3 separate regions of the Homo sapiens genome follow, and regions 2 and 3 are each reported to be linked to region 1. Evidence: microRNA targets listed by miRTarBase, many of them from high-throughput screens and not tested one by one. Region 1 holds a microRNA gene; each other region holds the end of a gene's coding sequence.

The links. Region 1 holds the annotated microRNA hsa-miR-200c-3p (UAAUACUGCCGGGUAAUGAUGGA, at 1,325-1,347, opposite strand). A microRNA usually pairs through its seed, bases 2 to 8, with sites in the 3' UTR of a target mRNA and lowers its output. Matches are read on the target gene's strand: a 7mer-m8 pairs with bases 2 to 8, a 7mer-A1 pairs with bases 2 to 7 and ends in A, and an 8mer does both.
Region 2: miRTarBase lists ZFPM2 as a target of hsa-miR-200c-3p. Seed matches in the 3' UTR shown: 7mer-m8 at 2,210-2,216, 7mer-m8 at 1,671-1,677 and 7mer-A1 at 1,650-1,656.
Region 3: miRTarBase lists VAC14 as a target of hsa-miR-200c-3p. The part of its 3' UTR that is shown has no 7-base or 8-base seed match.

What each region holds. Positions count from the first base shown.
Region 1 is chr12:6,961,831-6,965,088 of GRCh38, reverse strand. MIR200C (microRNA 200c) reads right to left here and starts at 1,390; the gene lies at 1,323-1,390. It overlaps MIR200CHG (MIR200C and MIR141 host gene), which reads right to left and starts at 1,844. Exons shown (of 2, transcript NR_135032.1): 1 at 1,741-1,844; 2 at 642-888. It overlaps MIR141 (microRNA 141), which reads right to left and starts at 992; the gene lies at 898-992. It overlaps LOC105369634 (a long non-coding RNA gene), which reads left to right and starts at 1,990. Exons shown (of 2, transcript XR_931601.2): 1 at 1,990-2,550; 2 at 2,968-3,258. RefSeq lists enhancers at 98-147, 1,930-2,731, 2,973-3,182, 2,991-3,258, 2,732-3,258.
Region 2 is chr8:105,802,966-105,805,965 of GRCh38, reverse strand. It overlaps ZFPM2 (zinc finger protein, FOG family member 2), which reads right to left. Exons shown (of 8, transcript NM_012082.4): 8 at 1,427-3,000. The coding sequence ends at 2,428. All of the region lies in intron 2 of ZFPM2-AS1 (ZFPM2 antisense RNA 1), which reads left to right. Among named protein-coding and RNA genes, the nearest start is that of ZFPM2-AS1, 260 kb to the left of the region's middle. RefSeq lists an enhancer at 2,550-3,000.
Region 3 is chr16:70,685,267-70,688,266 of GRCh38, reverse strand. It overlaps VAC14 (VAC14 component of PIKFYVE complex), which reads left to right. Exons shown (of 19, transcript NM_018052.5): 19 at 177-828. The coding sequence ends at 339. MTSS2 (MTSS I-BAR domain containing 2) reads left to right here and starts at 2,214. Exons shown (of 15, transcript NM_138383.3): 1 at 2,214-2,544. The coding sequence starts at 2,476. RefSeq lists an enhancer at 180-686.

The DNA.
Region 1 (3,258 bases):
GGCTTTGCTGAGCCAGATTAAAAATCTGATGACCCCAACAGGAGCTGCTTCCTTGGCAGCAGGGTTCCTTGTGGCTGTGGGGAGCCTGCCTGTGCCTGTTGAGGCACTTCTGTGCCCAGAAGCCCAGTGGATCGCGTGGCCTGCTGTAGGCCCCCCAGACTCCATTTCTCAGTCACCAGGCGTGAGGAGCTGCTAGCTAACAGGCCTCCCCTGGGGAGGTGGGCTTTTCATGCCCGCAGTTCCGGGGCCAACAGAACAGGTGCCTGTCTGTTCAGTCCACAGATAAGCTGACACTTATCTTCCCAAGACAGGCCTTCCCGAATCTCAGGCACCAGAGAAACAGAGCCACCGTTTATACCTGAATCTCCCACTACTGCCCATTTCCCATCCCTGCGGGGAGACAAGGAAGATGTGGAACTCAGACAAAACATAGGTGCAAAGTATGTCCAGGAACTGCCAAATGCAGATAGGGCAGCAGGTGGATCTGAACAGAGGGACTGGGTTAATCTGCTTCGATTTTTAAGATATTTTTCTCTGCTTGGGGTTGAGTATCATGAAAGACAAAGCAGACGTCGCAGCCCCAATCCTGAGTTGCTGGGAGGCTAAGATGAGATAAACAACTAGACAAAAGACAGGTCAAGTGACTTGGATCAGTCTTCCTCATGTTCCCCTTCACACTTTATTTATTTCATGCTCCCAAGGCGGGAAGACAATGGAGGTGCCTAGGGAACCAGTGTTTCCACATCTTGCTGCAGCTGTAAAGGCAGCCATTTTGTCTCCTTCCCATTGTTCCCCTTTGCCTAGTGATTCGTCCCCCATCCAGAGGGGTGAAGGTCAGAGGTTGTTGGTCAGTAGTCCTCCATGGTCTTCAGGGCTCCCTGAAGGTTACTGCCGAGAGAACCCACCCGGGAGCCATCTTTACCAGACAGTGTTAGGAGCTTCACAATTAGACCATCCAACACTGTACTGGAAGATGGACCCAGGGCCGGCCGACAGAGAACTACGGTGCGCGCTCACCAGTTGCTACAGGGGACCCTGGCCACAGGCCAGGTGAGGTCTCTTGAGAGGGGGCGAGCCAACCCCAAGCTCAAGGTCGACTGTGGGTTCTGGATCCACCAGGTGACAAATCGCACTGGGTGGGAGGAGGGGCTGGGGCCCATTGTGTCCCTTAGTGGCAGCCAGCCAACAAGAACCACCCCTTGTGCAACGCTCTCAGCTCAAGACGAGGGGCTTCCGGGGTGCGTGGGAAGTGGGGAGGGGGCTGCAGCCAGCTAAGGGCTGGGGACCTGAGGCGATGGATGTTGCTGACACAGGGACAGGGGCCTCCATCATTACCCGGCAGTATTAGAGACTCCCAACCGCACCCAAACACTGCTGGGTAAGACGAGGGCCCCCGCCCAGCCCGCCCACCTTGGGTCAGGCAGCTTCAGGCCCAGGATCCCTGCGGAAAAGCTGCAGATCCCTGGCTCCCATCCCCCCACCACCCGAGTCCCTGGGGACACTTCCTGGTGAGCCCTGCTGCCCGCCACCAGCCACACCCTGGGTCGCTGATCACGAGGCCCAGGTTGCAGTCCAAGCAGGCCCTCCGAAGCCCCTCGACCGTCGGCCCGCCGCCTCTGAGCCACCTTCCCCTACCCCCGGCAGCCTTTCCCGACCCGCGACACACACCGATTTACCCACCCTCATCCCCCCTCTGCAGTCCCAAGCTCAGCCCAGGACCTCTCCCCTGGTGGCCTTTACCTGTCACCGGGCCCACCTGCCCCCAGAGAGTGGGTGCTGGGGAGACGAAGGGGCTTTAAGGCCCCAGATTCCACGGCCTAGAGCCCGCCCTGGCCTCCGCTCTTCCTCCTTCCTTCTCCGCCTGCCGGGCAGCCAGCGCAGGCTCCTTACCTGGGCCCCGCCTGCCACCCTGCGCACAGGTGTGTCCTCCTGCCATAGGCTGCCCCCCCACTGCCTTAACCCCTTCCCTCCCAGCGCCAGCCACGGGCACCTCCTCTAAGGCTTGGCCACTCCTCTAGGCCTCCCACCCTCTCCCAGGGGCCTCTTTTCTCCAACCTGCCTAGTCTCACCCCTGTCTCCAGAGGTACAAAAAGCGGGGGCTGTCCTTGGGTCCCCTCCCCACAGCAGATGCTGCCCCCAGGACTAGCCCATTCCTCTGTGGCCTCAGACCCTGCCCACAGCGGAGCTGCAGGCCAGAGAGATCCCTGAGGTCAGCGAGGGGTCAGCTGGGCAGGAGTTGGGCTGTGCCGCCCCGCAGTGCCCAGCCTGTGCTGGGATCCCCTGAGGGAAAGGGGAGGGAGAAGGCCCCGCCAGGCCTGTGAAGGGCAGGCGGGTCCCAGCAAGGTGTCGCTAGTGTGAAGTTACCCACCGCTACCCAGAGACCCCAGCTGGCCCGGAGCATCAGCCTTGCCCCTCGATTGAGGCCTGCAGAGGGAACGATCGCGCTCCACTCTCCGGACCGAGCTGCTCCCGGACCCACCTCACAGCACAGCCCTCAGTGGAGTCCAAGTCCCACCCCAAGGGCAGGTAGCCCAAGGGCGGTTAGAGGAGGTGGGACTTGCCTTTGTGCAGCTGCGGCTTGTATAGAAAGGGCGTTGCTGGGAGAGGGGACCTGGGCCCGACAGGTGATTGCCCCACCCGTGCCCTGGAGGGCCACAGCCCCAGGGAGCTATTGGGTTGCTCAATCCCTCGCTGTTCTCTCTCCCAGGCTTTGTTTGCTTCCTTCTTAATACCCGCCTGCAATTATTTGATGCTTGTGATCGGTTTGTGAATCTGTCTCCCTGACCAGCCTCCTAAGTTCCAGGAGGTCGGGGGACTGTGAATGCCTGTGACGCCGGGGGCTCTGTAAGGATTTGCTGAGTAATGCACGCCCAGCCTCTGGGCTTTGGGACCTGTGCTGTCTCAGCCTTTCCAGGAGTGGGCGCCAGCACTTCCTGAGGGATGACTCCCACCGGCTTTACTCCCCAGGACACCAGTGTTTCAAATAAAGAAGAAACCCCACTCCTGACATGGGGGAAGGAAGAGGGGACAAAAAACAAAGCACTCTTCACGTCAGCCAGCTCTTCAAACTCTGCCCAAGAGGATAAGGGCAGCAGCGGCCTGGATGAGGGGAGGAGCTGGGCGTGCCCGGGTGCTCTGAGGAGCCTGTCCCTGTTCCCGCCAGAGGGGACGCAGCCGGGCTGGCCTCAGGTCTGCGCTTCCGGCTGTTAACTACTCTTCTTAGTTCAGATCTGGAACTCAGCATCAGGGGAGTGTGAT
Region 2 (3,000 bases), not on the chromosome of region 1:
CTTTCAATATTTCCCAACACTGTTTGCATATTAGAACCACCTGGAGAGGTTTTATAAGGTACAGATTCTCAGAGCTCACAGGCTTGAGTGTTTCTTTAATTGATCTAGGGTAAGGCCCAGTGTACAAAACTATATAAATAACTGGCATTTTTAAATGTTCCTTAGGCAATTTTAATGAGAGAAGTGTTGAGAAGCACTAAATTGAATCAAATTATAAGCTCTTTGAGGAAATAGTCATGTGTTATATTTCTTTGCCTTCATCCCCTAAATAGTGGATACAAGCCACGTAATCAATAAATATATGTCGGTTTGGCTAATTTTTTTTCTTTCTTTCTTTTTGAAGAGGAAAGAGGACGAAAAAGAGATTGGGGAAGAAAGTCCTCTTAAGAATACTCAGCCCTACCAATTCCAACCTGTGCACCACAAAGGTCTTTCTGAACATCTCCATTGATCCCCAAGGATCTCATACTTTGAGAGATTCCTGTTTCACACTATTAAGCACATTAGTCCTGTTCACCTCACTGTTTAATCACTGACTGAAATGGAAGGCATCAGTTAATTCCGTGATTTCAATTCTGAAAATAGTTATTCTCAACAAGCAAGTGGAGACATGTTTTTGACAACATAGTATTTTTTTTTTATGTTTTGTCACAGTATTTGTATGTTATGCTTAAGGCCAACATTTATGCTCGTTATGTTACCAGATTCAATATGGATGAACAATAGTGCATCACAACCTATCTATCTGTAAAGAGTGTATCTTCTTAGCCTCAAGTGGGTAGTTGCCTTTCCAAGTCAGGAGATTTCTAATTTTGCAGGAGACCATCATGCCTGCCAAGTCACTCTCAATGCTTCTGGCTGGTCCATTAGGCCCACATTCTCTGCTCTCCACTCACCCTCAATATGCAAACTCCTGGATTATACAAATGAGATGTACAAAATCAATCTTTTACAAATCCTGAGCATTAGATTTGCACATCTTTACTCATCAGAGTCACTTTACCATACCACGTCACCATTGCTCAAAATGCAAACCTCTCTCTCTGGTAAATTTCATCTGAATCTTGGGTGCATTTGACCAACATTTGTGTTGATTCTTGTGCATATGGCTTGTAAGTTTTGTAGACATGCATGAAATTGCTCTTTATCTGTGCTGCAGCGATGATGGGGAAAGGCAGACAGAGAGATTCTGCTAATTATACATAGTTATAATGAAGAACTTTTCTAGTTTCGTGGCCTGGAGCCTCTAGTTCATTTTAATAGAGCAAGTTATATTAATTAGGTGTATGTAAAGGACAATCTTTCTCTTTACTGATTTGTCATTGTGTTATTACAGCCATTCGGTGCCATTTGGAAACTATTTTCATCACAAAGAATAGATTTAGGGCTTCTCTTCTATTTTGAAGGGAAAAAAAGTGTGCCAAACTTCTCCAACAATCTGGAATTTTATTCCATCCATATACATGCATAGTAACAACATTTGTTGAGAAATTATTTCTATCAGAAGTAGAACATTATCTTTGTGATCACCAGGTGCAGTATTGCTACTCTTATATTTAAATAGATCTTATATATGAATTAAATTCATACTTGCAGCATTGAGTTTAGGGTTTCGATTTAGACTGTGCCTTTCAAAAGATAAAACTGATTAATACTACCTCATTACTTACAATACTGCTTCCAGTAATTTTGTTCATTCTTTATAAAGTATTGCATTTAACAGCAAAGGTTTAAAAATTGAGACAGAGCTGCATCAGCGAAAGAAAATACAAGTACTATACAAGAAAAAAATTGCCATCTTCATTTAACATACAGGTTCAGGATTAAGAAAATGGACGGAAACATACAGCTACATACAAATGCAAAGCCTAGTGACTAAGAGACTGTATCTGCTAAAATATAAAGTGCAAACAGAGCCTGATTATCCAAGAATTGAAATCTTAAGGCGAACTTATAGCATGTGTATTTAGAACATCTTTGCAAGTTATATTTTAGCATATACATATATCTGCAACAGCATATAAGAAAAAATCAAGATACACAAGTGCTTTTGAAGCTATTTCTAAAATGCTTTTCTGTATTGTGACTATTTTCTTTAAAAGCTACTATACAGTGCAAACCATATGTGCTACACAATAACTATACAATAACATTACAAATGACTTTAATATAAAGTTTTTAAATAAAAAATAACATAACCACAGCTATGAATACTGCTGGTAAAATAAATTAATTTTTTTGAAAATGGCACCAATAATACACTTTACTAATGGACTGTAATGAAATTACACCTTAAGTCTTCAACTCAGCCATAATGAATTATCTCCTGATTGCCCAGATGTAATTCAAACAGCTTATTTTTTTTTCTGGACTGGTTAGAACAACATACTAAACACTGATACCAAAGGTGACTGATGTTTAGTTAGTTCATTTGACATGTTCTGCTGCATGTGATGAGCAATAAAACTTCTTGTGAGTTATAAAGTTTGAAAGGTTGTTGAACTGGATATCACATAGCCGGCAATATTTCCCACTGGTTGGAGCCTGGCTGGAACCATTCACACCTTTTGCTATACTAGACAACTGTTCCTCTGCTGAGGGAATTCCTGGTGAGACATTCTCATTGGCAGCTAATGGGTTCTCAGAGATCCACGAGGGAGATTTGTGGTCGTCTTCGTGCTGAGGATTCTGGGAAATGTTCTCTTGCTGTGGGTTGGCAGCAGGTCTCTCATCTTGTTTCAGTCCACCATTCACTATTACCATTCCTCGATTTTTGGGCAACAATGGCAGAGAATCTTTCTTCAGCGCAGCACACCCATTTGAGGAAGCCTGGCCTTTAGGAGATTCATTTTCTGCATTTCTGCTTTGCTCGATGTCAGTGTTATGGATGACAAGAGAACCAGAAATATAATCACTTGGCTTGATTCCATAATATGGAGAAAGCTGGTCGGCTCCTTTTGCTTTCTTTATTGCTCCAGGGTAAAGGCATTGTGGAAGAAA
Region 3 (3,000 bases), not on the chromosome of region 1:
TCAGGGGCTTCCCAGCTCTGGGGCCCGCCATGACGGAAGAGTTGCCAGGCCTGAGACAGACGCCCACAGGCCGAGCCCACCAGCCTGTGGCTCTGCCTCTGACCCCACTGCCCTCCAGCAGTAACCCCCCTGTGAGCTGATCCCTGACACTGAGCATTTCTGCTCCCTCTTCCCAGAGACAGTCTAAAGGCAGCCCCCAAGTCCCAGAAAGCTGACTCCCCTAGCATCGACTACGCAGAGCTGCTGCAGCACTTTGAGAAGGTCCAGAACAAGCACCTGGAAGTGCGGCACCAGCGGAGCGGGCGTGGGGACCACCTGGACCGGAGGGTTGTCCTCTGACAGGCCTGGCACGGAGGAGGGCCCACCGAGTGGTCCCATGAAACACTAAGGGTCGTCACGCCCTCCCGAGGAGCTCAAGGACCTGCCTGTCAGGACCAGGGCTGGGCCTGCCAACCCAGGGCAGTGTTGGGGCCGGAGGCTGCTGTGTCTGCCCAAGCTCCTCTCAGAGTCCAGTCCCCAGGCCTCCAGCGCTGTCAGCTGCACCCTGGCATTCTCACAGAGCTGGCTGCCCACCCAGTGGGGGGCTATAGCCTCAGAGACCACTCATCCTCTGGAATCAACCTCTTTCTAATACCCTCTTGGAAAAAGAGCTTGCCCCTCCTCCAGCACACTAGAGCTCTGGCCTTGTGTGTATATGTATACATACGTGAACACATGCCTGTGTGTGTGTGTGTGTGTGTGTACTTGTATGCACGTAGGCACCAGCACAAAGATCTGAATGATGCACCCCACCCCCACCCCAATAAAGAAATAACAGAAAACCCTCAACCCGAGCCGGCCTGCTCCTTCCCAGCTGACACGTGCAGCTGTCCGGGGGCCTCACCCTCTGTCCTGGAGATCGGGTTTCATGATGGCCCCAAGGAGTACTGGCTGCCCCAGGGCCTGGTCCCTGCACTCACCTGAGTGGAGCCATGGGCCTAGAGCCTAGGTCCCCACCTCTGGAACCTGCACCCTCCTGGAGAGCACCATGCACTGCCTGCCCTGGAATCCTGAACCCTGCCTTCCCCAATCTGCCTTTCTCATCCTGACTCCCTGGGGCAATGGGAGTTCCCCACTGGGGACATGGGAGCTGAGCCCCAGGAGTTCCTGGATGAAAGGGCAATGCACACTGCAGAACACTTTGCAGATCTCGGGGCAAGGGGAGGAAAAGCCCAGAGCAGTCCAGGGAGGGGCAGGTGCCCCAACCACTGCTGCAGCTGAAAGCCCTTCCTCACCGGGAGTGGTACCACCTGTCCCCAGGCTTTGGGAACCCTGGGCTTGGTCTCCTAATGAGCTTGTAATTGGCTCCCTCCGGCCCATGGAGTAGGCGAGAAGGAGCTTGTGCCTGCTCTTCCCCAGAGTGCGCTCCCCCATCGTGCTGCCCCCCAGGGTGGGTTTCCCTGCCTGGAGTCTCCAGGACAGGCTGCGATTGACATTGCTACCCCATGCACGTGTGTGCATCGCACCCACCGTGGACTCAGGCAGCAGAGACCAAGGACACTCCAGCTCTGCTCTGCAGGTCCGACATTAGCCCCCACCCGCGAAGAAGGAGGTTGTTCAAGGCCCAGGAGACTACCACTGCCCCCCAAATGCCCAGCCTTGGGCACCCCATCCGGGTGGCATCGGCACCACTTGGAGAAGGAGCCAAGGAACTTGGAAGGGTCCGAACTTGAGGAAGGTCTGTGCCTGCGATGAAACGTCCCAAGGCGGGCGGCTCCACGATACCCCGCGCCCTGCTGTGTGCGGTGTATGCCACCCATCCAGCCCATGCACCGACCCCATCCCGCCACTGTACCCACTGCCTGTCTTTAGAAGCGCGAGAAGCCCCCCGCCCCAGACCAAAGGCCAGAAGATATCGTGGAGCCCCTGCCCGGGGGCCGAGGCCCAACCGCCAGTCCCGCTCCTGCGTGGGCAGGGCGGGCCCCGCCCAGCGCCGCCCCCCGACCCTCGGTGGCGCCCGCGCCCGTCGGCCCCGCTCGCCGGACCAGTCTGGCAGCGCCCGGGCTCGGATTTCAAAGCCCTGGTTTCTGGCCGTGAATGGGCCTGCGCCCGCGCGGCCGTTCCCACAGCCCCCTCCCGCGCGGCCCGCCCTCCTTCCCTCCCTCCTCGCGGTCCCCCCTCCGCCGCGCCCACGTGACGCCCGATCCTCGGCGGCTCGGATTACCGCCGCCGTCAGTCCCCGCGCCGAGGCTGCGCCGCGAGCTGCCCGCGCCGCGCCCCCCGCGCCGCCCGCCAGCCCCGCTGCGACATGGCCCGCGCCGCCCGCCGGAGGCCCGCGACCCCGGAGCGCGGCGCGGCCGGCCGCTGAGCGCAGCCTGGAGGCGGGAGGCCCGGCCCGGCCTCGGAGCGAGCGCCCGCGCGGCCTGGCCCCCTCCCTTGCGCTGCTCCCCGCGCTCCGTGCGCCTAGCCGCCGCCGCGGCCCGGCCCAGCCAGAGCATGGAGACGGCGGAGAAGGAGTGCGGCGCCCTGGGCGGGCTCTTCCAGGCCATAGTCAACGACATGAAGGTAACCGGGGCGCGGCGGGGCCGGGCGCGCGGCGACGGGTGCGGGACCCCCCGGGGACGCGTGGCGGCGGGTGGCCGAGCCTCGTGTGGCCGCGCGCCGCGGTGTCTGTGTGTCCTTGTCTGAGCGCGTCCTGCCTGCGTCTGCTGGGCGCCCGTGTCTCCGGGTGCCCGTCTGGGGGTGTGGGTGCTCGTGTGTCGGGGTGTCCGTGCGGTGCCCGCGGTGGCCCCGTGGGGTCCTGACCCGAGCCTGTGCACACGCAGGCTCCCTGCGCCCCAGACCGCCAAACCATGAATGGGGTTTGGATCCAGGACCGACTCTAGGGCCCTTTAACGAGTCCGGGGTCTTACCGGCCTCCGCCCCCTTCCACCACCATGTTCCCCCACGGCCCCGGAGCCCAGACAATGCTGTCACCGCCAAAGCAGGAAAAAATAATAAAGCGGAGAACCGTTAACTCCT